Linked DNA regions of Homo sapiens. The protein of the gene in region 7 purifies or fractionates together with the protein of the main gene of each other region. This does not show direct contact. Each region holds a gene or a part of one and is shown on either strand. Other genes may lie near its edges.

The links.
Region 1: the proteins of SLC39A13 (region 7) and FLG2 purify together in Homo sapiens (affinity purification with mass spectrometry; one large-scale study listed by BioGRID and IntAct). This does not show direct contact.
Region 2: the proteins of SLC39A13 (region 7) and SCO1 purify together in Homo sapiens (affinity purification with mass spectrometry; one large-scale study listed by BioGRID and IntAct). This does not show direct contact.
Region 3: the proteins of SLC39A13 (region 7) and METTL9 purify together in Homo sapiens (affinity purification with mass spectrometry; one large-scale study listed by BioGRID and IntAct). This does not show direct contact.
Region 4: the proteins of SLC39A13 (region 7) and TMEM143 purify together in Homo sapiens (affinity purification with mass spectrometry; one large-scale study listed by BioGRID and IntAct). This does not show direct contact.
Region 5: the proteins of SLC39A13 (region 7) and CHAMP1 purify together in Homo sapiens (affinity purification with mass spectrometry; one large-scale study listed by BioGRID and IntAct). This does not show direct contact.
Region 6: the proteins of SLC39A13 (region 7) and FUT8 purify together in Homo sapiens (affinity purification with mass spectrometry; one large-scale study listed by BioGRID and IntAct). This does not show direct contact.

The regions. Positions count from the first base shown.
Region 1 is NC_000001.11:152,357,207-152,361,408, forward strand, and holds the start of FLG2 (filaggrin-2), read right to left. Parts: upstream 2,801-4,202; 5' UTR 2,750-2,800; intron 1,701-2,749; 5' UTR 1,679-1,700; coding exon 1,541-1,678; intron 442-1,540; coding exon 1-441. UniProt on the Homo sapiens protein: Essential for normal cell-cell adhesion in the cornified cell layers. Important for proper integrity and mechanical strength of the stratum corneum of the epidermis.
Region 2 is NC_000017.11:10,684,034-10,687,533, forward strand, and holds part of SCO1 (protein SCO1 homolog, mitochondrial), read right to left. Parts: intron 2,810-3,500; coding exon 2,694-2,809; intron 1-2,693. UniProt on the Homo sapiens protein: Copper metallochaperone essential for the maturation of cytochrome c oxidase subunit II (MT-CO2/COX2). Not required for the synthesis of MT-CO2/COX2 but plays a crucial role in stabilizing MT-CO2/COX2 during its subsequent maturation.
Region 3 is NC_000016.10:21,616,577-21,620,076, reverse strand, and holds part of METTL9 (protein-L-histidine N-pros-methyltransferase isoform 1 precursor), read right to left. Parts: intron 2,213-3,500; coding exon 2,003-2,212; intron 1-2,002. UniProt on the Homo sapiens protein: Protein-histidine N-methyltransferase that specifically catalyzes 1-methylhistidine (pros-methylhistidine) methylation of target proteins.
Region 4 is NC_000019.10:48,339,941-48,343,440, forward strand, and holds part of TMEM143 (transmembrane protein 143), read right to left. Parts: coding exon 3,381-3,500; intron 2,870-3,380; coding exon 2,590-2,869; intron 1-2,589.
Region 5 is NC_000013.11:114,321,003-114,324,502, forward strand, and holds part of CHAMP1 (chromosome alignment-maintaining phosphoprotein 1), read left to right. Parts: intron 1-107; 5' UTR 108-230; intron 231-1,060; exon of another isoform or gene 1,061-2,785; 5' UTR 2,786-2,840; coding exon 2,841-3,500. UniProt on the Homo sapiens protein: Required for proper alignment of chromosomes at metaphase and their accurate segregation during mitosis. Involved in the maintenance of spindle microtubules attachment to the kinetochore during sister chromatid biorientation.
Region 6 is NC_000014.9:65,720,230-65,723,729, reverse strand, and holds part of FUT8 (alpha-(1,6)-fucosyltransferase), read right to left. Parts: intron 1,956-3,500; coding exon 1,709-1,955; intron 1-1,708. UniProt on the Homo sapiens protein: Catalyzes the addition of fucose in alpha 1-6 linkage to the first GlcNAc residue, next to the peptide chains in N-glycans.
Region 7 is NC_000011.10:47,411,590-47,414,292, forward strand, and holds part of SLC39A13 (zinc transporter ZIP13 isoform a precursor), read left to right. Parts: intron 1-336; coding exon 337-450; intron 451-756; coding exon 757-878; intron 879-1,810; coding exon 1,811-1,918; intron 1,919-2,007; coding exon 2,008-2,097; intron 2,098-2,695; coding exon of another isoform or gene 2,696-2,703. UniProt on the Homo sapiens protein: Functions as a zinc transporter transporting Zn(2+) from the Golgi apparatus to the cytosol and thus influences the zinc level at least in areas of the cytosol. May regulate beige adipocyte differentiation.

The DNA.
Region 1 (4,202 bases), on a different chromosome or scaffold from region 7:
GCCACCACTCCATGAATGACCACAGCTGGACCTGTGGTATCTTTTCTGAGATCCCTCTTGGTTCCCAGAGCTGGATAAATTACCTTGTCTTCCTAGCCTCCTGGAGTTGGACCCATGTCTACATTTCACAGTTCCCCTTGAGTGCCCAGAACTATATCCATGCTCCTCTCCCTCACTCCAACTTGAATGTCTGTAACCTGATTTATGTCCTGGTGTATCCTCTTCATCCTCTTCTGTTTCACTTTCTTCTTCTTGGTGTCGGTGACCACGCCTATGCTTCTTTGACCCTGAAGCTTTGCAGTATTCTTTGCTGAGGACCTTGTTGCAGGCCATAGTCAGCTTGAATATCATCAAAAGAAACTCAGTAAAGTCCAATCTTCTGTCATGATCTCGATCCAGCATATGCATGATGACATCCACTGTGTCTGGATCATCTGGGTTCTGTATATGAGTGACACACCAAGGGAGACCTGGTCAGCCTAACCTGCATACTCAACTAACACATTTAAATAGCGCTGTGAAATTATGGATGTTTGACATGATGTAGTTTTAGTCCAATAAAGGATTACTTTAGGTTAATAGAACCCAGTAAATGTTAAGGGTTAATAGAAAATAAAGACTACTGGGATCCTCAGAAGAAGACATTTCAAGGATTTAGGCTAAAGGATTAAGTGCTTAGGTAAGGCCTACAGGAAGGAGTGGAATAAACTAAGTTCAGTAACTGGTATTTCTAAGTTTTACATAAATTGTAACTATTACATGTTAATATCTTCCATGTTGGAATTTATCATCTATTATTTTGAAGTTAATAACTGAGTCTTTTTTTTTTTTTTGAGATGGAGTCTTGCTCTGTAGCCCAGGCTGGAGTGCAGTGGTGCGATCTCTGCTCACTGCAAGCTCTGCCTCCCAGGTTCACGCCATTCTCCTGCCTCAGCCTCCCGAGTAGCTGGGACTACAGGGGCATGCAACCACGCCCGGCTAATTTTTTGTATTTTTAGTAGAGATGGGGTTTCACCGTATTAGCCAGGATGGTCTTGATCTCCTTACCTTGTGATTCACCCACTTCGGCCTCCCAAAGTGCTGGGATTACAGGCATGAGCCACCGCGCCTAGCTGAGTCCTTTTTAAGTAGATGGAATAAAATGCTGGCATTTTATTTTTGATTCTTAATCATGGCTATTTTGTCAACTCCCTATGTAGATGATTTCCCTTTCTATACTTTTTTTTCCATTTGATAGGATAATTTATTAATTCGTGTCCTAGTATAATTTTATTTTCTGCTTTTTCTAAGGAAAAGCCTGGGTGTATGAGAAAGTCTGAGAGTCTATGAGGTAGGAGTGCATAGGTGGAAAAGTGAGGACGAAACATTCACTTTCTTTAAAATATCTGCTGCTTTAACAGACTTTCTGGCATCCCCAAAATACCACTCATAGAGTTTGCTTAGAGTTCACTGGGGCTGTGCACTTTTTAGCTGATCTGGGTCATACAACAGAGCTTGTACAGGACTCCAGCAGCCTTCAGTTCTGGCACATGGCTCTCACCTTCAGAACTGGATGAAGCTCTTTCTCCAGAAGTTCCTTTAGTTCACCCTTGCTCAGTGTGCCACACTCCCCATCTTGCTTGGTGTATTTGTAGAAAACATCAATTACGGTGACAACACTTCTCAAGAGGTCGGTCATCTTTTTGCAAGTTTAAGTGAACCTGGACACAGAAAAACAAAGAACCCTATTATTCATATTCTCTCCTTTTATCAGCAATTTTCATTTTAATAATAACCAGCATGATTTTTTTAACCTCTTGTTTTTTAAATCTCAAAACGTAAGAATGGGCCAGGGATGATACAACCCCGTTTAACACAATGAAAATTAACTTTGTTAACTTTGAGTTACTTTTCTGTGATCAAGTCTTGGCATGTTACTGGTTCAACTGAGAATAGACCTCAAGTCTCTATATTTCCTGTCATGGGTAAGTATAGTCTCTACATAGTATCTCTACACTTTGAGTGTGTTGGCATTCTGGGTGTTGTTCTAAGGCTTCCAAAATTTCCAGAACCAGCCAGACACCATTGCCTCAATCTCTCTTTCTAGTTTCACTGCTTTTCTTGAGTCAAAAGTGACAGACCTTCCACCATGCACATCTGTTTATCCTCTGGGCACCAGAAGCTAAACTGGACCCTTAAGGCCTTCAGCAAATTAAAAATGGGCAAAGGGGCTCAAAATAGCTTGGTGTTTCATAGGCATGAGACAGTAGAACTCAGTAGAGCTTAGGAACTCTCTTAATGTCAAGCACTTGACCAAACACTGTTTTCTTTAATTAATCAAGAAGAAGAGCTCAGCAATGCAGGCAGCAGTTTAACTAGTGGATAATTAGATCTTGGAGCTCTGGGAACCAACACTGAATAAGGAAGGGACTCTGCAACAGACCCAGCTGCCTCCCAGTTTGAGCTGGACAGCCCAGAAAAGAGGGCATGGAAAAAGACTCGGAACAGACTGTGGAATGGCCTAGAGGAAGGTGAACTTTTACTTGCATTATTCTTCTCCATAAAAATGAACTTAACTACAAAAAGGCCCCAGAATAAACTAAACTAACCAAACAAATAAGCAAACAAAAAGAAAAGAAAATGAAAGAAAGAAACAAAAAAGAAAAGAAAGGCAAAATATACATGAACTCTGCCTTAGCTTATATCCCTAGACTTCTACTATGGACAACACCAAATATTCATAAATGTAGCTGGATGAATTTTCTCTCACCTGGTTCACCAAAGGAACAAGTAGGATAAAGCCTGATGCAGCTTGCAGGGTGACGATGGATTGGGATAATGACCCTTATATAGCTTATAGTGATTATAGTGAATGAGGTGATTCATTTTCCATCAAACCTAACTCCACCTCTACATATTTACCTTCCTCCTTCACATTGTTATCTACAGATGATTGCAGAAAGGCTAGTACCAGCCCCACCTTCCAGTACGAGGACATGGTTGCAAGATACCTTTTTTTTCAGGGTCATATACATGTGAAAAGCACAGACTTTGTTTTAGAGGACTCATGTTATACATTTCTTTTAACTAGTACCCACAGAAAGTAGCAGAGTGTAAGATACTTGGAAGGTGCACAATAAATGCTTATTTAATTGAAAATGAACCTGAGCCACTAGGTTCATCTAATTCATGTCTTTTTTGTAATAATAAAAAGTGACATTTATTGAGAATTTACTATGTGCTAAATACTTTAAACAAACCATCTCAATCTTTAAAAAATCTGCACTTTTAGTTATGGGTACATAGTTGTATATAATTGTTGGGTACATGTGATGTTTTGATATGGGCATACCATGTGTAATGATCAAATTACAGTAATTGGGGTATCCAGCACCTCAAGCATTTCTTTGTAGTAGGAACATTCTAATTCTACTATTTTAGTTATTTAAAAATATACAATAAATAGTTAACTATAGTTACCATATTATGTTACCAAATACTAGATCTTATCACCTCATTTAATCTTCACAACCTTCATACGAGATATGTATTTATTATCCCATTTTATAGAGACAGGTTCTGGAAGCATAAGGATCTTCTCCAAGGTCATAGCTAGTAGGCAGAGAAACCAGAAGTTGAACCTGTATCTACCTTATTGCAATTGCTGTTTACCATTATACTAACTTACCTCTGTGTATTTATCATATATAACTATCATGCAAAAATTATGCACCATTTTAGGAGTGTAAGGCCCACTCAAACGCAAATAATATAAAAAAGTAACATACAGAGTGCTGTTAGGAAGAGAGGAAACATTCTCTGACCTTGTGAAGGCTCATTTCTAGGCTAGAAAAGTGTAATTGGCTATATATAAAAATAATGTTTTCAGATATGTTCAGGGTGAATTTAGAGTGAGCTTTCTTCCAGCACTCTGCGATCCACTGGTAGTCTGGCATGTTTAGGGCCTGGACCCTTGGGAAAATGTTCACTTATGTACAGAAAGTATATCAAATACACTTGAGGGTAACAAAAATAATCAGAGAGCTGTAAGTCTTAAGCATGGAGAGCCAATTCTGCTGTACTTTGCTACCAGGTGATAATGATGATGATGAGGAGGATAGCAGCTACCATTAAGTGCTAAGTGCTTACTATCTTCTATACATGGTAGGTTTACATGCTTATCTATTTATTCCTCAAAATAACCCCATTTTATAGATAAGGTA
Region 2 (3,500 bases), on a different chromosome or scaffold from region 7:
AAGAATGTCTCCCCCTATTGGATGATTTAGCAAATGTACAGCATGAATTCCTCATCGAATCTCATCAAAAGTCAAATTCTTATGGCAGTAGGCCAGTATTTCTCAAAATGGGGCCAAAGATACATTCTACAAGGTCCAAGAAGTTTCCATAAGACTTACATATTTTTGTTTTCATTTGTAATTAAAAACATTAATATCCATATTCTGGATTATCTGTGTTGTGAGTATAAATTTCAGTGCCCAGGCTTGTGTTTGCTCCATGATCTCACTGGCACCTAGCTGCCCACTGCTGTTACAGGCAGACATGAATATGATACATTCTTGCCAAATCAACACTAACCAGGCAAGGCAGGCTACACGATTAAAGGTTTCAAAGTATTTTAAATAGAAAATGCAGAGGGGCAGTTGAGTAGAGTTGGGTATGTGATAGCAGTCTGACCAAAACCCCCTCCCTTCTTGCCCTGAGCAGCACTTTGGTTTCAGCAAAATCTCTTGTCAATGTAACTGAATGTTTTCAATTTAAGTTTTGCAGGCTGTTTGGGTTTATTTGTACAACTGCTTTCTGATTTGACTTTCTGACTCTGAGTTATGAGTTCTAAGCATCAAGACTATGGAGTGTTACCTAGTTTAGGACTGTATACATTTAAACAATTTAATATAACTCATTTAATGCTGGAAATCAGACTGATGAGCTCATCTATTCCTGCTGTCATCATCGGATAAACTCAAAACCAGTTAATACAACTCTCTATAAAGACAGAAGTCCGGAAAGTCCTTTTCCTATGGTTTCCTCTTTTGGCCACTGTGGCTCTCTGCTCTTCTCTCATTCTGCTAGAGAAGCAGCAAGAGGAAAACAGAGGAGGGTCCCTCTACTTTCCTTACAATTAAGGCTTAAAGAAAAGTGCTCATTTTTCTCATCTTTTACTCCAAGGAATCCAAGTTTCCCTAATTCTACGAGGCACCACATCTGGAAGACAGGATTACTGTGTAGGCTTAATTAAGGCAAACAGGCCAGAACCTTGCTTTTAATTCAGGCTGTAGGCTCCAGGGGCACACACGTTCCAGGTTCAAAGGGACAAAGAAATCATAGTTGGCTGTTGAGACAAAGCACTGCAGTGAGACATCCCATCCCCTCTGCATCTCAACTCTTGGGATGGGCCATGGGGAGCTGCTGGATCAGTGACTCAGGGTCTTGGCCATCTTTCTTTCTACAAAGACAGCTTCACAGCTAGAAAGGCTCTTAGGATTACTCTGCCCAAACAATATTATAGAAAAAACAGAGTATGACAACTAAGAAAAATACTGAAATAATGCTAAAATACAACGCCGACTCTTCATATGATAGGAGAAAAATGTCCAAATTGAGAGGAAAATTGGTGGATAGTGGTGGTGCTAATGCCTTTTGGTGCTTCACTGTGAAACCACTGACAAGAAAAGAAACACAGTAACTTGGGCATGACCTTAAGGCTTCTGGGGCAGTGCTGATGAATATGAAGATAGTTAATTTAAGAGCTACACAAGTACAACAGAATTTCTGTTCCTTATCATTAAAAAGCACATATTTAACGCCTAACTGTCCAAGGCATATAGTCAATGGGCAAATAAACCTTTCATCTTTTGCTTTTCAGAATTCTCATTCAACCTAAAAATGCAGTTCTCCATGGCCTAAAACTGGTTCTCCAGAAGAGCAATTTCTGATACCTCTACTGGGGACACAGTGAGAACCAACACAATCTTTTTAAAATAAGTGTTGTTCCAAATGATGGCTTCTCTTTATTTCCAACATGGCACCCAAGTATCTGGTTTTAAACTGCCCTAAAATCCTATATGCCACTATAAGAGAAAAACAGGCAATTGAATTATGAGAACAGTGAATATAAATCAAACAATCATCTTTTAAAAAACTGCTTCTGGCTGGGCGCAGTGGCTCAGGCCTGTAATCCCAGCACTTTGGGAGGCTGAGGTGGGCAGGGCAGACCACCTGAGGTCAGGAATTCGAGACCCCCTGGCCTCGCCTGGCCAACATGGCAAAACTCCTTCTCTACTAAAAATACAAAAACTAGCCAGGCGTGGGAGCACATGCCTGTAATCCCAGCTACGCGAGAGGCTGAGGGAGGAGAATTGCTTGAATCCGGGAGGCGGAGGTCGAAGTGAGCCAAGATCGCACCACTGCACTCCAGCCTGGCTGACGGAGTGAGACTCCGTCTCGAAAATAAATAAAAAGTAAAAAACATGCTTCTATTATCCTTTCAAATATTCAAAATTCCTAAGGAGGCTGGATGCGGTGGCTCACGTCTGTAATCCCAGTACTTTGGGAGGCTGAGGCGGGTAAGGTCAGGAGTTCGAGACCAGCCTGGCCAACGTGGTGAAACCCCGTCTCTACCAAAAAATATAAAAAAGTAGCCAGGTGTGGTGGCGCGCACCTGTAATCCCAGCTACTCGGGAGGCTGACATAGGAGAATTGCTTGAATCTGGGAGGCGGAGGTTGCAGTGAGCGAAGATTGTGCCACTGCACTCCAGCCTGGATGACAGAATGAGACTCCATCTCAAAAAAAAAAAAAAAAAAATTCCTAAGGACTTTGCAATAATCTTAGGTATTCTCTCTTCTCAGAAGCTAGTCAGTCATTGAAAGCCTTATGACTATTTGGGATCTGGGAGCTGGTCCATGGGTTAAAACTGGAACATTTACTCACTATGTAGTCTTCATCTTCGTCCTTGGGGCCAGGGCTGTAATACACTCTGTATGCTCTGGCCACTTGATCGACCTCTTCTCTCGTGCCAGTCAAGCCAACCAGTTTGGGAGAAAATTCTAAATAAAAAATGAGAGAGACAGTGAAAAATGAGAAGCCAGTAAAACAACCATCTCTACTTCAAAAAATGTATCAGTTGTAAAGCAGCTCTACTGCCACTTTCTTCCTGTGAGTCTCCAAACATTTCTTCACGATTCAAAGGAAAAGGAGAAGAAATTCACAAAGAACAAATGAAAATTCTCCTTTGTAATATATAAGTCAAATCTTTTTATGACTATCTAGTAAAGACCTGGAGGGAATATTTTCTAATCACTTGTATCACATTTTAAATTGATTTTTAAGGAGTAGTCACATGTAGTTCTCAGATATACTAAAGCTTAAAATTATTATCATAAATTAAATACTATAACTTTTCATGGCATCATATGGGGAAAAAAATTTGCTTCATAACTAAGTTCATATCAGGTCAAAATACCTGTGTCTTATTTTCCTGCAAATAATTTCAACACTGGTATCAAGTTCTACTCTTTACTTCTGATTTAAAAAAACTGGTTAATTAATACTAGTCATCCCCAAAACGCAATCTTAACAAAGTTCTGAAATAAGGGCAAATCATTCACAGCGTGTATCTGCTATTAAGTTTTTGGAATTCATGTAAGTGAACCGGTAGAGGTCACTTAAAACAACTGGATTCATCAAACTACTGAAATGACAGCCCAACATTTAACAGCAGTTCCTTTTTCTAAAGGT
Region 3 (3,500 bases), on a different chromosome or scaffold from region 7:
TCCTTTCCTTCCATATAAAAATCCCACAGCGTATCTGTTCACAGAAATCTTCCCTTCTCCAGGCTAAAAATCTCCATGTTTTGCAAATGCTCAAACCAGTCCTGCTCCAAAAGCTACACTGATGCTCTATCTCTAGGATTAATCTGTAAAAGTAGAAACATGTGGATAGGAAAGTGAGTGATTACATAATTTCTTCTCCTTTCTTTCTAAGGCTAACCAGACTTCCAAAAATATCACAGAGAAAGGCTGACTCCAGCTCTACCTCCCTGATTCTGCACTGAGCCAATATATAGAAATCTCCCAATCAATAAATCATACTGAAATAAGAATACCCTTCTTCCAGCCGGGTGCAGTGGCTCACGCCTGTAATCCCAACACTTTGGGAGGCCAAGGCAGGCAGATCACGAGGTCAGCAGTTTGAGACCAGCCTGGCCAACATAGTGAAACCCTGTCTCTACTAAAAATACAAAAAAAAAAAAAAAAAAAAAATTAGCCGGGCATAGTGGCATGTGCCTGTAGTCCCAGCTACTCAGGAGGCTGAGGCAGTAGAATTGCCTGAATCCAGGAGGTGGAGGTTTCAGTGAGCTGAGATCACGCCACCGCACTCCAGCTTGGGCAAGTGAAACTTCATCTCCAGAAAAAAAAAAAAGGCCCTTCTTCCTAGTCTTTCAAACTCCAGATGACCTTAAAACCAAGATTAACACTGATGACTATAAACTAAAAGCAAAACAAAACAGAAAATAGCAAGTATTGTCAAGGAGTGGAGAAACTGAAACCCTTGTACTACATTGCTGGTGGGAATGTAAAATGGTGCAGCAGCAATGGAAAAGTATTGCAATTCCTCAAAAAATTAAACCCAGACTTAGCCATGTGATCCAGCAACTCCACTTCTGGGTCTATACCCAAAAGAAGTAAAAGTAGGGGCTCAAGTCGGTATCTGTACACCCATGTTCATAGCAGCATTATTCACAACAGCCAAATGGTAGAAACAACCCAAATATCTACTGACAGATAAATGGGTAAACAAAATGTGGTACATGCATACAGCGAATTATCATTCATCCTTAAAGAAAATTTTGGGCCAGGCGCAGTGGCTCACACCTGTAATCCCAGCACTTTGGATTACTTGAGGTCAGGAGTTCGAGACCAGCCTGGCCAAATAGTGAAACCCTATCCCTACTAAAACTACAAAAAAATTAGCCAGGCATGGTGGCATATGCCTGTAATCCCAGCTACTTGGGAGGCTGAGGCAGGAGAATTGCTTGAACCTGAGAGGTAGAGGTTGTAGTGAGCCGAGATCGTGCCACTGCACTCCAGCCTGGGTGACAGAGCAAGACTCCATCTCAAAAAAAAAAAGAAAAGAAAAGAAAAGAAAATTTTGGCCCATGGTACAACATGAGTAAACCTTGAAGACATTATGCTACATGCGATAAGCCAGTCACAAGGAGCTAATGTATATAATTCCTCTTATACGAAATACCCAGAATAGTCAAATTCATAGACAAAGTAGAATGGTGGTTGTCAGGGGTTACGAGGAGGGAAAAATGGGGAGTTATTGTTTATTGGGTACAGAGTTTCCGTTTCGGAAGACAAAAATTTCTGGAGATGAATAGTGGTGATGATTATGCAACAATGTAAATGTACTTAATACCACTGAACTGTACACTTAAAAATAGTTACAACAGTAAATTCTATGCTATGTGTATTTTACCACTACTTAAAAAAATTTTTTTTGAGAATGCCACATTCTGATTAGGGAAGAAGTCCCTTCTTCTGATCTGCCTTTTCCAAGTTGTCTCTCGCTAGTGCTTTTCTTACCTATAGTGCCAACCCCTCCGCTCCAGAAAAATACTGCTACCAGAAGATTATTTCTCTACATTTCCAGTTAATTATGTATGAGATGATTTTTTAAATTTCTAATCATGGAAGATCATTTTTTATTCATATCCTTTAAATAATATACTTTCAAGAAGAAATGCATCTAAAACCAAGAAAATTATACCTGTATTTCTTTTTCTGAAGCTGCCATATCATAGTTTCAGAAAGCTCAGTGGCATAGATTTCTTCAAAATGAGGGCTCATGATTTTTGTGACTTCTCCATCTCCAGCACCTAAATCAAGAAGTCTGTGGGTTTTCCAGTCTGGATTAATTTTAAGCAGTCTCTGAAACTGATCTGGTGAAAACACAAACATTGAGCCTCTTCCTAGCAACCTGAAAGAAAAAAAGGACAAAAATGGAAGTGTCTATGCAAATTAAGCACCCCTCACATACACACACAAAGTGAATATAGTGACTCAGCACCAACAACCATAATCACTTATTACATGGTTAAGATTTTTTTTTTTTTTAGACAAGGTCTCACTCTGTCACTCAGGCTGGAGTGCAGTGGCATGATCTCGGCTCACTGCAACCTTCGCCTCCTGGGTTCAAGCGATTCTCCTGTCCCAGCCTCCTGAGTAGCTGGGATTACAGGCATGCACCACCACACCCGGCTTATTTTTTGTATTTTTAGTGGAGACAGGGTTTCACCATGTCGGCCAGGTTGGTCTCGAACTCCTGACCTCAGGTGATCTACCCGCCTCGGCCTCCCAAAGTGCTGGGATTACAGGCATGGGCCACTGCGCCTGGCCTAATTTTTTTTTTCTTTTTTTTTTTGAGACAGAGTCTCGCTCTGCCGTCGCCCAGACTGGAGTGCAGTGGCACGATCTCTGCTCACTGCAAGCTCCGCCTCCCAGGTTCATGCCATTCTCCTGCCTCAGCCTCCTGAGTAGCTGGGACTACAGGCGCCCGCCACCACACCTGACTAATTTTTTGGATTTTTAGTAGAGAAGGGGTTTCACCATGTTAGCCAGGATGGTCTCGATCTCCTGCCCTCGTGATCCACCCGCCTCTGCCTCCAAAGTGCTGGGATTACAGGCATGAGCCACCGTGCCCAGCAAAGATATTATCTTTTATGTCATTTCTATGATTAGAAGACAAAGTTAATAAAATAAGAAAATGCCTCCAGATACCATTTGTCTTTGGAGTTGCAAATAATGCCCCAAAAAAGCATGGGAGGAGGGAAATAAAAGGTGGAAAGTGGAAAGGATGACAGGGGAAGGAAGAAGAAATAAGTAAGAGATGAATGTGAAGAACTTAAGTCAAAATAGGAAGGAAAAGTGGAAGGAGTAACAGAAAACATGTTTATCAGTTGAAAAAGATGACAAGCTAACACAGCCAGACCACAGTAGCAGAGAAACCAAATAGGAAAAAAAAGTGATTTCAAATATGGAACTAAACCATGGATCAGGAAAAAAGAGCTTTAGTATAACAGATTTTTAAGAGACACTAGAGAAAAGAGGGAAAAGAGTGGTCCTTGTGATGTCGGTTAATATGCATTAAAGTAGATTCGTACTTATGTCAGTTTATATGGTTACAACTGTCTGGGTCCTATTATTTCTAAAGGTCCTAGAAAACACTCAAAACCATAGTGATGCCTTTGAAAAAAGAGACTGAGGGG
Region 4 (3,500 bases), on a different chromosome or scaffold from region 7:
CTGGTCTCGAACTCCTGACTGCATGTGATCTGCCTGCCTCAGCCTCCCAAAGTGCTGGGATTACAGGTATGAGCCACTGCACCCAGCCAAGGGCCCACATGTAAAGGCTGGGCCTCACCCCAAGGCGTGGGGAAATACCTCATGAATTCATGAATACACTAAATTAACTTGTCAACTGGGATTTTTTTTTTTTTTTTTTTTTTTGAGATGGAGTCTCACTGTGTCGCCCAGGCTGGAATACAGTGATGCCATCTCAGCTCACTGCAACCTCTGCCCCCTGGGTTCAAGTGATTCTCCTGCCTCAGCCTCCAGAGTAGCTGGGATTACAGGCATGTGCCACCATGCCCAGCTAATTTTTGTGTTTTTAGTAGAGATGGGGTTTCACCATCTTGGCCAGGCTGGTCTTGAACTCCTGACCTCGTGATCCACCCGCCTCGGCCTCCCAAAGTGCTGGGATTATAGGTGTGAGCCATTGCGCCTGGCTGGGCTTTTTTATTGTTATTTTTTGATTTGGGGTTTCACTATGTTGCCCAGGCTGGACTCCCAACTCCTGGGCTCAAGCGATCCTCCCACCTTGGCCTCCTGAGTAGCTAGGACTACAGGCATGTGCCACCATGCCTGGTGTGAATTGGGTTTGAAATAGGGTCTTTCAGAGCCTGACAGGCTCCATAGCACCCCAAGGGCCAGCAAGGGGTGAGGCAATAGTCACCGTGGGCTGGGACTCAGTGTCTTCTCCCCAGAGGCACCGGGCCTCCCTGCCTCTCATCTCGCCCCTCCCCTCTGCCCTCCATGGTTGCAGCTTACAGCCATTCCACAGCTCCCTGCGGCTCTGAGGATAAGGCCTTGGGTACCACTCTGGGCATTCAAGGCCCTCACCACCCTCTGGGACTTCCCCTCTCTACCCTGCTCACTGGATCCAGCCCCATGAGATACGCCAGGCTGAGCTCGTGGGCTCTTTCTCCACCAGGCTCAATTCCTGTCTTCCAGAGCTTTCCTCAGATCCTACCTGAGCCCTGGTCCCAAGCAGAAATTGCTCCCTCCCCAGCCCCTCTGTTGGCCCAAGTATGCCAGCACCCTCTCAGGCGGCACAGCCTGGCTATTATCTGCGGGATTTATTACCAGCCTTCCTAAGAGCCTGTCAGCATGGCTGAAAACAGCTTGAAAACCAATGAGCCAGCAGGTGAATGATCGCGTACGACAGATGCTTCACACCAGTCTACACTCCTGGGGCCGGTGCCAACCCTGGGAAGAATCAGTAAAAGGCAGCTCCCCTCTGGGCTGACTCAGCCTCGAGACAGGACACGCATTTTGGCAAGCGGAGCACAAGTTGGGTGTCAGCCTCCACCTGGCCCCTGGGCCACGAATCCTTGGATGGTGAACAACCTGTGCAACTGTTCAAGGCAGCCCGGCACTCACATGTAGCAGAATCAAAAGGGAGCTTGTTAAAAATATAGTTCCCTGGGCCCCAGTCCCAGAGTTTCCAATTCAGTCCACTAGGACTGGAGCCCAGGAGGCTGCATTTGTCAGCCAGCTCCCCCAGTGATAATGATACCCAGTCAGGATGGGGACTTGGAACAAACAGCCCAATTAGTAATGATAATAATCATCATCCTGGTAATAGCTAACTCTCACATAGCACCTCCTGTGCCATGTGGGAGGCTCTATTCTCAGCACTGTGCATGTTAATTCATTTAATCCCCACAACACCTCTATGAGTTAGGTCCCACCATCATCCCTACTTTGCAGATTTTGAAGCTGAGACACAGAGAGGTTAAGCAACTTGTTCAAGATCACACAGCGAGAAGAGAGTAGAGTCAGATTCAAATCCAGGAAGTCTGCTTCCAGAACACACCCCCTTCACCGCATCACTAAAGCGCCCCTAAAGCCGGCACTCAGTGAGCGGCTGTCAACCCTTATGTAGCCCCTACCACGAGCCGAGCACTGCCCAGTGCTTCTCACAGACTCACTCATTTCATGCTCACAACCCTACAAGGCAGATCTCGCTATCATCCCCATTTTCCAGATGAGAAAACTGAGGCTCAGAGAGATTAAGAAACCCCCCTAAGGGGTGTTGAGTAAATGAAGTAGGGAAGGGAAGGGGAAGGGAGGGGAGCGGAGGAGAGGGCAAGAAGGGAGGGAAGGGAGAAAGGGAAGGGGGGAGGAAGGAGGTGGGGAGAGGGAGGGAAGGGAAGGAAAAGAGGAACAGGAAGGAAGGGAGGGAGGGAGGGGAAGGGGAGGGGAGGGGAGAGGAGGGGAGGCGGAAGGAAGGGGAAGAAGGAAGGGAAGGGAAAGGGGAAAAGGAAGGGGAGGAGAGAGAGGGAGAAAGGAAAGAAGGGAGGAAGGGAGGGAGGAAGGAAGGAAGGACAGGGAGGGAAGGGAAGGGAAAGAAAAGAGGAAGAATGGGAAGGAAGGAAGGACAGGGAGGGAAGGGAAGGGAAAGAAAAGAGGAAGAATGGGAAGGAAGGAAGGGAGGGAGGGAGGGAGGAGAGCATGACGCAGGAACAATGCATGAAACAGAGACAACTACAGGGGGCCTGACCTGGTCCCCACAGCGCAGGGCCGCAGGAGGCGTGGCAGGCGCATGCTCACCTTGGAGGCCCGCAGGCCCATGAAGATGGCGAAGAGCAGCAGCAGCAGGGAGGTGGCCACCTTGAGGTCGGTTAGCACCACCATGCCCACGTTGACGAAGATCGCCACGCCGGAGACTACCAGCATGAGGTTGAGCAGGGCGCGCTGCAGGGTGGGCGTGCGCACCTTCAGCTCCGGCAGCAGCTGCTCCAGGCCTTCCAGCGGCGTGTCCTTGAAACTCTTCAGTACCAGGTGTCCCCGTTTGGTCCGGGCTGCCAGGACCACCCGCTTAAAGTATCTCCTGAGGGACAGAGACAGAGGCAGGAGCAGGATCGGGACTGCACTGCCCGGGGAGCCCCCTCCAATCCTAGGACGCTCACTCTGGCTCTACAGTCGCACAACCATCTTAAAAGCGACTCAGTAATCATGGGGAAGAAACCAGGGATCAGCTGTGTCCAACCACAGGGGATCGGTTCAATCGCGCCATCGATCCCTGGTATTGGACGTGCAGATTGTTTGTTGGAATCCTGGCCGTGCCGCATCTTCAGAATGTGGACCTCCCTCTCCGAGCCTCAGTTTTCCTTATTGGAAAATGGGGAGAACTGTCCCCATCCTTTCTCTTCCCCTGGGAATCAAGTGTAGTACTCACTTTCCCTTGAGAAGAAAAGACAGCATTTGGATGAGTCACGCCTCCCATTTCTCAACTTCCCGCCTGGGGCCCAGACACCCAAACCAGACACTGACCTGTCAGTCCCCTCTTGACTCTAACCTTGCTCCCTCTTGCTGCAGCTGGGGAACAAGGGCCGCCTCACCTCTCCGCAGGGGGCAGCTTGGTGAAGAAGCCACGCCTGGAGCCCACGCTGGACTTCAGGGGCATCTGCCCGACTCGCTGGCCCAGGGCCCAGAAGTGAATGTAGACATACTGATCCAAA
Region 5 (3,500 bases), on a different chromosome or scaffold from region 7:
GTTAGGGCAGGATGGTGAGAGAAATACACAGAATTCCATTACAGGGGGCACACACGATCACAGATATAGTTTTGATTACTTTTCTTTTTTTTTTTTTTTTTTTCCAGGTTCAACTTCTCATCTTTGTTCTTCTTCATATACTATAGGCTGTTTGCTGTGGTTTAGTCAAAAAGCCATGTAGAATGCCTGCCTTTTGAAGACCACTTTTAAGGTGTCTAGTAAGACAGCAGGTAAGTCTAGTAGGGAAAGCATGCTTAGGAGAATATTTTATGAGGAGAAAATTAAAAAAAAATACCTGGAGTTCTTGAGGAAAATCTCTAAAAGTGTACACGCCCTTATGGATATAATGTGTGTTGTGTGCTAGATATACATAATTTGGGATATGAGAAGTGAATTCTGTAGCATTCTTTGTAGATTTAAGTATGAGATTGGCCTGAAGAGCTGGTGGTAGGCAGCGGGAAGAGGAGGGATGGCTGGGAGGAATGGGGAATGGTAGGTGAGTCAGACTCAAACCCAGCACACCTGAGCTCTTAGTCTCTGTTGTAATTACAATATGTAATATAGTGCTCTTTAATATTAGCTTGGCTGTTCATTATTGCCAGTTGGGCTGTTCATTATTGCCTCATGGGATTATTGAGACATATCCTACGTTTTCCCCTAAAGTCTTCTAGTTTTATTTAACAATGGGCTCTGAGACGGATGGTTAACCCATTATTTTTCCATGCATTCAATTACGTTTGTAAGTTAAAGATCATTTTCAGAGATTTTTCATCAGTACGGAATTATTTATTTTTCTTTTGTTACAGTCCTGGCCCCAAAACAGTTTTCTAAAATACAGGATAACTGCTGGGCAACTCAGAAAGAGTAAATAGTTTCCGAAGAAAAGTATTTGTTTCCTCAAGTATCTGTCACCTTTTTAGCTTTAGATCAAAAAATAAAAAAGGCAAATGATATACCTTGGATAAAAGTGTTAGGAAGCAGTATTGCCAGTGAGAACATCTTTAAAAACAAATTATCAAAGTTAGAAATGTTAATTTTTTTTTTTTTTTTTTTTTTTGAGATGGAGTCTTGCTCTGTCACCAGGCTGGAATGCAGCGGCATGATCTCAGCTCTCTGCAACCTCCGACTTCTGGTCCAAGCGATTGGCCTGCCTCAGCCTCCCAAGTAGCTGGGACTACAGGCACACGCCACCACGCCTGGCTAATTTTTGTATTTTTAGTAGAGATGGGGTTTCACCATGTTGGCCATGATGGTCTTGATCTCCCGACCTCGTGATCTGCCTGCCCGGCCTCCCAAAGTGCTGAGATTACAGGCATGAGCCACTGCGCCCAGCCTATACATTTTTTTAAAATAATGGTTTTGTAATTAATAAAGGGAGAGCCTGCATTTCTAATCTGTACTGTTCTTTGAGGAGGAGTAAATATCATTACCGTCAATAAGGGAAGGTGTTCAGTCTTTCTCATTAAAGAGAAGCACATTAACACAATAGTGAAATACTAGCTTTCACCTAGGTTGTAGCAAGGATTAGGAATTTATAGGAAATTGTCTCTCATATATACACGTTGTTATGCAGTAATAGAAGTTTTTGAGAGTTTGGTAAAATGTATCAATTTTACACACAAATGGCCAAGTAATCCATTGCTAGGAATTTTCCCTGCAGAAATACCCTCACATGCACAGATAAGTACAGGGAAAGTCAGTGCTTATTCCATATGTAAAAATGTCTTAGAGATAAATTCTAAATGAGAGTAAGTTGCCAGATAATATGTTTAATATCCCATTTGTGTAAAGCATGTGTGTTGATCAATATATGCTTAGGACATTTCTTCCAGGACACATGAGTACACTGGCTACCCCTAGGGACTGACACTCTGTATCTCGTACTGTGTGAATGTGTTTTTAACTGTGAGCTTCTATTCCCTTTACTACTTAAGAAGACTGGTTTACAATTTTTTTAAATTCATGTTTTCCGGCAACTGTGTTCCAGCTGCTGGGGTGTCCTCTGATTTGCCCTTTGGTTGGTATGCGCCTTCACATCATTCAGGATCTCTGCTGGAATGTCCCATGCATAGAGGTCTTTTCCAACGGCCTCTACATCACTCTCCACCTTATCTTTCCAACTCATGAACGCCATATTGCAAAGCACTGCTTTAAGCCTAAGTGCCTAGAACATTGTAGGACACAAAGTTATTTATTTATTAAATGAATTAATAGAATACTATATTGGGATAGATTAAACATTACAAAATATGTTGACATGAAATCAAGCCAGCATCATGTTTTAAAGTCATCTTTTTATAGCTAGATTTAATTTATTAAGTGCTTTCTGCAAAAGTTTTAGTCTCTTGTTCATCCTTAAATAGCCAAGATTTAATTTTGATATTCACTCATCTTTGTGTGCTGAGGACTTTTGTACTCGGAGTTTGAGAGTCAAAGTATAAAGCACATGCAATAGCTAATTCTAGAGTCAGGCTCACATCACTGATAGTCCTATAGCCTGGACCAGAGAAAGTCAGGTAACTTCTCTGAACCTGTTTCTTCATCTGTAAGTGAAAATAATAGTTGAGTCATATCATTAGGATTAAATGAGATGATGTATGTGAAACTCCTAGCAGAGTGCCTGGGACTGTTCTATATCTCCTTTTTCTTCAAATTCTCCCTAGAGATACTATCAAATAAAGCACGCACTGTTCTAGACTTAAAATTATGCAGTTATAGAATGGACTGACAGCATTTTATTCAGAATTACAGTTCATGAAAATAATTTATTCCTACTTTATTGCAGCAGTATTGAAAGTTTTTAAAGAATATAACCGTGTGTGTTGGTAACAGACAGAAGAATGGAAGCATTCCAGGAACTTCGTAAACCATCAGCACGTTTGGAGTGTGACCATTGCAGTTTCAGAGGCACAGACTATGAAAATGTACAAATCCATATGGGTACCATCCATCCAGAATTTTGTGATGAAATGGATGCTGGTGGGCTAGGCAAAATGATATTTTACCAGAAAAGTGCAAAGTTATTTCACTGCCATAAATGCTTCTTCACCAGCAAGATGTACTCTAATGTATACTATCACATCACATCCAAACATGCATCCCCAGACAAATGGAATGATAAACCAAAAAATCAGTTGAACAAAGAAACAGATCCTGTGAAAAGCCCTCCTCTTCCTGAACACCAGAAAATACCCTGCAATTCAGCAGAACCAAAATCCATACCTGCCCTTTCAATGGAAACACAGAAACTTGGTTCAGTTTTGTCTCCAGAATCGCCAAAACCTACTCCTCTTACTCCCCTGGAGCCTCAGAAACCTGGCTCTGTTGTTTCTCCTGAGCTACAGACACCTCTTCCTTCTCCTGAGCCTTCAAAACCTGCCTCTGTTTCTTCTCCTGAACCTCCAAAATCAGTCCCTGTTTGTGAGTCTCAGAAACTTGCCCCTGTTCCTTCTCCAGAACCACAGAAACCTGCCCCTGTATCTCCTGAGTCAGTAAAGGCT
Region 6 (3,500 bases), on a different chromosome or scaffold from region 7:
TTGTAAAGTTCTGATACCAAGGGTTTTCCTCTTTATTTTACCCTGGAGAGTCACCATAACTGCCAGCTTGTAGAACTTAAAAGTTGTCCCAGGAAAACATAGACCTGGATAAACTTTTACAGCACCGTTAAGACCAGCAAACCTTTTAACGGTTTTTACTATTTTAGGTAAATGAAACCGATTCCAGCCCTTCTGTTGTGGGCATAATGCATTTCCTTTCTCTGTTTTTCACCATATCAAATGACAGCAGATATTAATTTCACCTGTCATATTTAAGAAAAGCCCCAAAATTGTAAAATTGGGGACACAGATTCACACTTCCCTGTACTGAATAAGGCACTGACTTCCACAGTTTTCTCCTCTCTCCTCCCATCTTAGTGTTTCCAAAGTAATTTTTTTTTTTTTAAGACAAGGTCTTGCTCTGTTGCACACATTGGAGTGCAGTGGCGTGATTATGGTTCACTCCAATCTCTGCCTCCCAGGCTCAAGTGATCCTCTCACCTCAGCCTCCCGAACAGCTGGTACTACAGGCATGTGTCACCAAGCCTGGCTAATTTTTGCTTTTTTTTTTTTTTTTAATTGATGGGGTTTCAACCATGTTGCCTATGTTGAGTTTTCTCAAACTTCTGGGCTCAAGTGATCCACTTGCCTCAGCCTCCCAGTGTTGTGATTACAGGCATGAGCCACTATGCCTGGCCCCAAAGCAATATTAATGGAAATAAAAATAACAGTTTATTTTCATAAATTAAAACACCCTCCTTAAATCTTGCCTTCCCCTCCCCCCAAATTACTAAATCACTATTTATATGTAGAAAAAGGTAGACTTATACGCCTTTAGGTCACAGTATATGGGCCAAACTTAAGGCCAGTTTTTTATTATGAATCTGGAGTGAAGGTTTGATTTCACCAGAGTTACTCTGCCATCTTCACGGCTATTCTTTGCTTTGCATTCCAGACTATAACCCAGATGTGGATACAATCATATGAACATCTATTCTATCATCTTTCCTTCCCACATCCTTCATAATCACTCTTTTTCTGGGGAAATTGGAATTGTTCAGTGGGCTCTATAGAGATGAAGTGGGCAGAACGAATGATTCCATTGAATTTCAATCAAAAGTTACATGAGAAGAAATACGATTTGATATTCTGACTTCACATGTACCTTCTTTACGTCTAACACTTAGAATGGGGTCAATAACTCCTCTACATATGAAGACTAAGACACAAGGAAAGATGTGGGGTGGGAAATATGAAAATAAAAATAAAAAGAAGCTGGACATGGTGATACATGCCTTTAGACCCAGCTATTATACTTGGGAGGCTGAGGTAGGAGGATCACTTGAGCCCAGGGTGGTTGAGGCTGCAGTGAGCCACTACACTTCAGCCTGGGTGACAGAGTGAGACCCTATCTCAAAAATAACAACAACAAAAGCCAAAAGAGAGCTGTGATAAGAGGAGAAAGAAGCAAAGGAAGAGGAGAACTGGAGACAGTAATAGAGCACTACTAAGCAACTTTCTTAGCTGTTCTAAGTAAACAAACAAAAAAAAATAGTCTCCATGTGACCTTAGGATAGCTCTAGAACCTCTGTCCTTTGGTGGGACTATAAAAATTGAACTACATATTGTAAAATTCACAATATATTGTAAAGATACATAACCCTAACTACTACATATCACAGTTTGAGGGAAAAAATCAGATTCTTACCCAATAACTGGATGTTTGAAGCCAAGCTTCTTGGTGGCTTCTTCTATTTCTTTTTCTAGCCAAGGCTGTGGGCGGATCAAGTATTTGACAAACTGAGACACCCACCACACTGCAGGGTCACCATGCACTCGTACAAGTCGATCTGCGAGGTCTTCTGGTACAGCCAAGGGTAAATATGGAGGACGGGGATGAAGACTGTCTACAATGGGAAGCTCGACCACTTGAACATTTTTGTCCTTCACTTCACCTGACAATATTGAAACATATAATCATTACCACATGGTATTCCTTATACATCCACCATTCAACAAGAACTTATTCTGAGTGCTTTCATCCTCACAGCAACTCTAAAGAAGTATAATCTTCACTTTACAAAGGAAGTTAAATAACTTGCTCGAAATACCAGAGCAAAAGTGACGGAGGTGAATTTCACATGCAGGTTAGTCTATCTCTCAAGTCTCTGGTCTTTTCTAAAAGTTTCTATCATAACATGCTATCATACCAACACCTCATGGTATGCAGAACTCAAAGTATCTAATCAAAGAATGACAGTAGACACAGCCAGCTAGCAAAGTTCTATTTTTTGTTGTTGTTTTGGAATTAGAAAATAAAGTGTTCTCGAAACTTCTAGCTTTTCATTACAGCAAAATTGCTCTTGCATTACTTTCATGACAGAACACAATGACTCTGGAAACACCTGAAGATTATAATTATAAGCCAATCATCTACATCTTTTAAAGAAAAAAATTAGATAATTCTAAAATCTTTTTTTTTTTTAATCTATTGGAGGGAGATGAAGCAAGATGGCTGAATAGAAGCCTCAACCAATCGCTGCCCCCACCACAGGAACACCAAATTTAACAACTATCTACACAAAAAAGCACCTTCACAAGAACCAAAAATCAGGTAAGTGATCACAGTACCTGATTTTAACTTCATATTGCTGAAAGAGACACTGAAGAGAGTAGGAAAGACAGTTTTCGATTGTCTACTACCCCTTCCACCCCCATGCAGTGGCCGTGTGGTGCAAAGAATCTGTGTGCTTGGGGGAGGGGGAGCACAGTGATTGTGGGACTTTGCACTGGAACTCAGTGTTACCATGTCACAGCAGAAAGCAACACCAGGCCAACTGGCAAGCAACACCCGGGCCATTAGCAAAGAACTCAGCCAATGCCCATGGAGGGAGAACTTAGATGTGCCCTAGCCAGAGGGGAAATGTCCATCCCAGCGGTTGGAGCCTGAGTTTCAACAAGCCGCACCACTATAGGCTGAAGTGTCCTGGGGCCCTAAATGAACTTGAAAGGCAGTCTAGGCCACAAGAACTGTAATTTCTAGGCAAGTTTTAGTGCTGTGCTGGGTTCGAGAGTCATTGGACCTAGGGGGCACGTAACCTAGTGAGCCACCAGCTGAGGTGGCTAAGGCAGTGCTTATGCCACCCTTTCCCTAATCTAAGGCAGTGCAGTTCACAGCTCCAAAAGAGACTCCTTCCTTCCACTTGAGCAGTAGAGAGGGAAGAGTAAAGAGGACTTTATCTTGCAACTTGGATAACAGCTCAGCCACAGTGGAACAGAGCACCAAGTGGGCTCTTGGGGTTCCTGATTCCAGACCTTGGCTCTTGTATGGCACTCCTGGACCTGCCTGGGCCAGAAGGGAGCCCAGTGCCCTGAAGGGCAAGTCCCAGGCCTGGCAACATTCACCACAAGCTGACTGAAGAGCCCTTGGGCCTTAAGTGAACATGAACCGTAGCCTGGCAATAATCCCTGTGGGCTTGTAGTGGTGGTGGCCATAGGGA
Region 7 (2,703 bases):
GCGAGACTCCATCTCAAAACAAAACAAGATAAAATAATAATTCCCATAAGACCCAATTTACAGATGGAGAAACCGAGTCTCCAAAGTCATCTGCCAAGGTCACCAGCTAGTGGGTTGGGAGCTGGGACCTGTCAGCTCTTCACCATGACATGGTGGTGGCCCTGTGGGCATTTGGCAGGGTGTGGTGTTTCTGCTGTGAGGTGGGGGACCCAGGAAGAGCAGCCACCCATATCCAGCCTTGCAGGCCCAGAAAGAGCCCAGTGAGTGGGGTGGGATGAAGGTCAGGCCAGGAGCTCCAGCCAGTCAGCCCCCAGACCCCGCATCTCTCCCTTGTAGCTGGGGCCTGGCGCCTGAAGCAGCTGCTCAGCTTCGCCCTGGGGGGACTCTTGGGCAATGTGTTTCTGCATCTGCTGCCCGAAGCCTGGGCCTACACGTGCAGCGCCAGCCCTGGTAAGTGAGGCCACACGCCAGGGGCAAGACAGTGCCAGGAGTGGGGGCCTGGTGCCCACGCCCAGGGATGGCCAGGATGACCAGGAGAGGGATTCTGGGTTTCTGGCAGGAGCTTGCCTGGGAGGGAGGGAGGGTCATTGTCCTGGTCTCTGGGCCCTGGTCCCAGTGGGAGTTCTGGGCCCCAGCTGCCCAACCCACCCTTGTCACTGCCCTGGTGCCCTGGATGAGATCCCATTCCAAATGGCCCCCTCCTATGGCCCTGGCTTGGCTTGGCCTGGCCTGGCCTGGCATTGCCGCCCCCTGCAGGTGGTGAGGGGCAGAGCCTGCAGCAGCAGCAACAGCTGGGGCTGTGGGTCATTGCTGGCATCCTGACCTTCCTGGCGTTGGAGAAGATGTTCCTGGACAGCAAGGAGGAGGGGACCAGCCAGGTGGGCCCCACACTCAAGGGCCTGGATATATCAGCCTCTGTTCTGTGGTAGTGCCCGGGGCCTGGAGGCCCAGGGTCTGAGTTGAGCCCTGAAAAGAGGGGTCTCCTGGCCCTCTCCTGGGAGCTGCGGGAGGTTGGGCCACCTTCTTTGGGACTGACACCATTAGCCCCTGATGTAGCTTGTTCTGGTAGCCTGATGGTGACAGCAGTTGGGGAGGGTTTGTTGAGTTTGGGGGCACCCAACTGATATAGCAGCAGAGGATTCTAGCTAGAAAAAACAGGGGTTCCTATCTTTTTTTTTTTTTTTTTTTTTGAGACGGAGTCTCGCTCTGTCACCCAGGCTGAAGTGCAGTGGCACGATCGTGGCTCACGGCAACCTCTGCCTCCCGGGTTCAAGCGATTCTCCTGCCTCAGCCTCCCGAGTAGCTGGGACCACAGGTGCGCGCCACCATGCCCAGCTAACTTTTGTATTTTTAGTGGAGACGGGGTTTCACCATGTTGTCCAGGATGGTCTCGATCTCTTGACTTCTTGATCCACCCACCTCAGCCTCCCAATTATTATTATTATTTTTTTGAGAAGAGTCTCGCTCTGTCACCCAGGCTGGAGTGCAGTGGCGCGATCTCGGCTCACTACAGCTTTCACCTCCCAGGTTCAAGCAATTCTTCTGCCTCAGCCTCCCAAGTAGCTGGGACCACGCCCAGCTAATTTTTGTATTTTTAGTAGAGGTGGGGTTTCACCATGTTGGCCAGGCTGGTCTCGAACTCCTGACCTCAGGTGATCCATCTGCCTTGGGCTCCCAAAGTGCTGGGATTACAGGCATGAGCCACTGCACCCAGCCCCCGTCTCTCTTTCTCCATCTCTCTCCCCTTCTGTCTGCCCTGGCTGAGTGGGGGGCATCTAATGTCACCTCTCCCTCCTTCTCCTGGCCCTAGGCCCCCAACAAAGACCCCACTGCTGCTGCCGCCGCGCTCAATGGAGGCCACTGTCTGGCCCAGCCGGCTGCAGAGCCCGGCCTCGGTGCCGTGGTCCGGAGCATCAAAGTGAGTGGCCTGCTCAGGGCCCCTGCAGCCGTACTGCCCTGAGTGGCCAGCCCCACTCAGCCCTGCCTCCTGCCTTCCCTCCTTCCCAGGTCAGCGGCTACCTCAACCTGCTGGCCAACACCATCGATAACTTCACCCACGGGCTGGCTGTGGCTGCCAGCTTCCTTGTGAGCAAGAAGGTGAGGGGCTTGGGGCCAGTGGGGCTCTGGCGATTCCAGTGGCAGCCATGTGGATTCCACCTGTGTCTGGAGTCTCTGCTTCTTGCCCCTCCATTGCCAGCGCCCTCATCTAAGGCTCTCATCCCCCATCCTCCCTGCTGCTGTCCTGGCCGCCACTGTTCTCTGATCCTGAGCCCCTGGTCTGTTCCTGTTCCCAGTACTCCTTGTTGGGTGCCTCTGTCAAGCTGCTAGGCGTGGCCCCTGCCTGCTCCTAGATGCTTCTTCCTCTACCTCCTCCCTCTGGCCTCTGGCCTCTGGCCCAGAGGCAGCCTACTCTGCAGCTGGCCGAGATCTTTCCCACCTCACACTGTTCCCCCTGCCTGGAATGTTCTCCCGCCCACGCTTCGAGCGGCTGACGACTCATCCTTGGGGCCTCGACTTACATGGACTCCTCCACCAGGCCTTTGCTGACCTCCTCATCTAAATTTGGTTCCTGGGCCTGCTCCCCTGGGCACTCTATCCATCCTTTCCTTCCCAGCGCCTGTGAGTGTGTGAGTGAGTCCTGTCTCTCCCCTCTATACCGCTAGCTTCGTGAAGGCAGGTTCCTTGTCCCCTTTAGTCACTGCT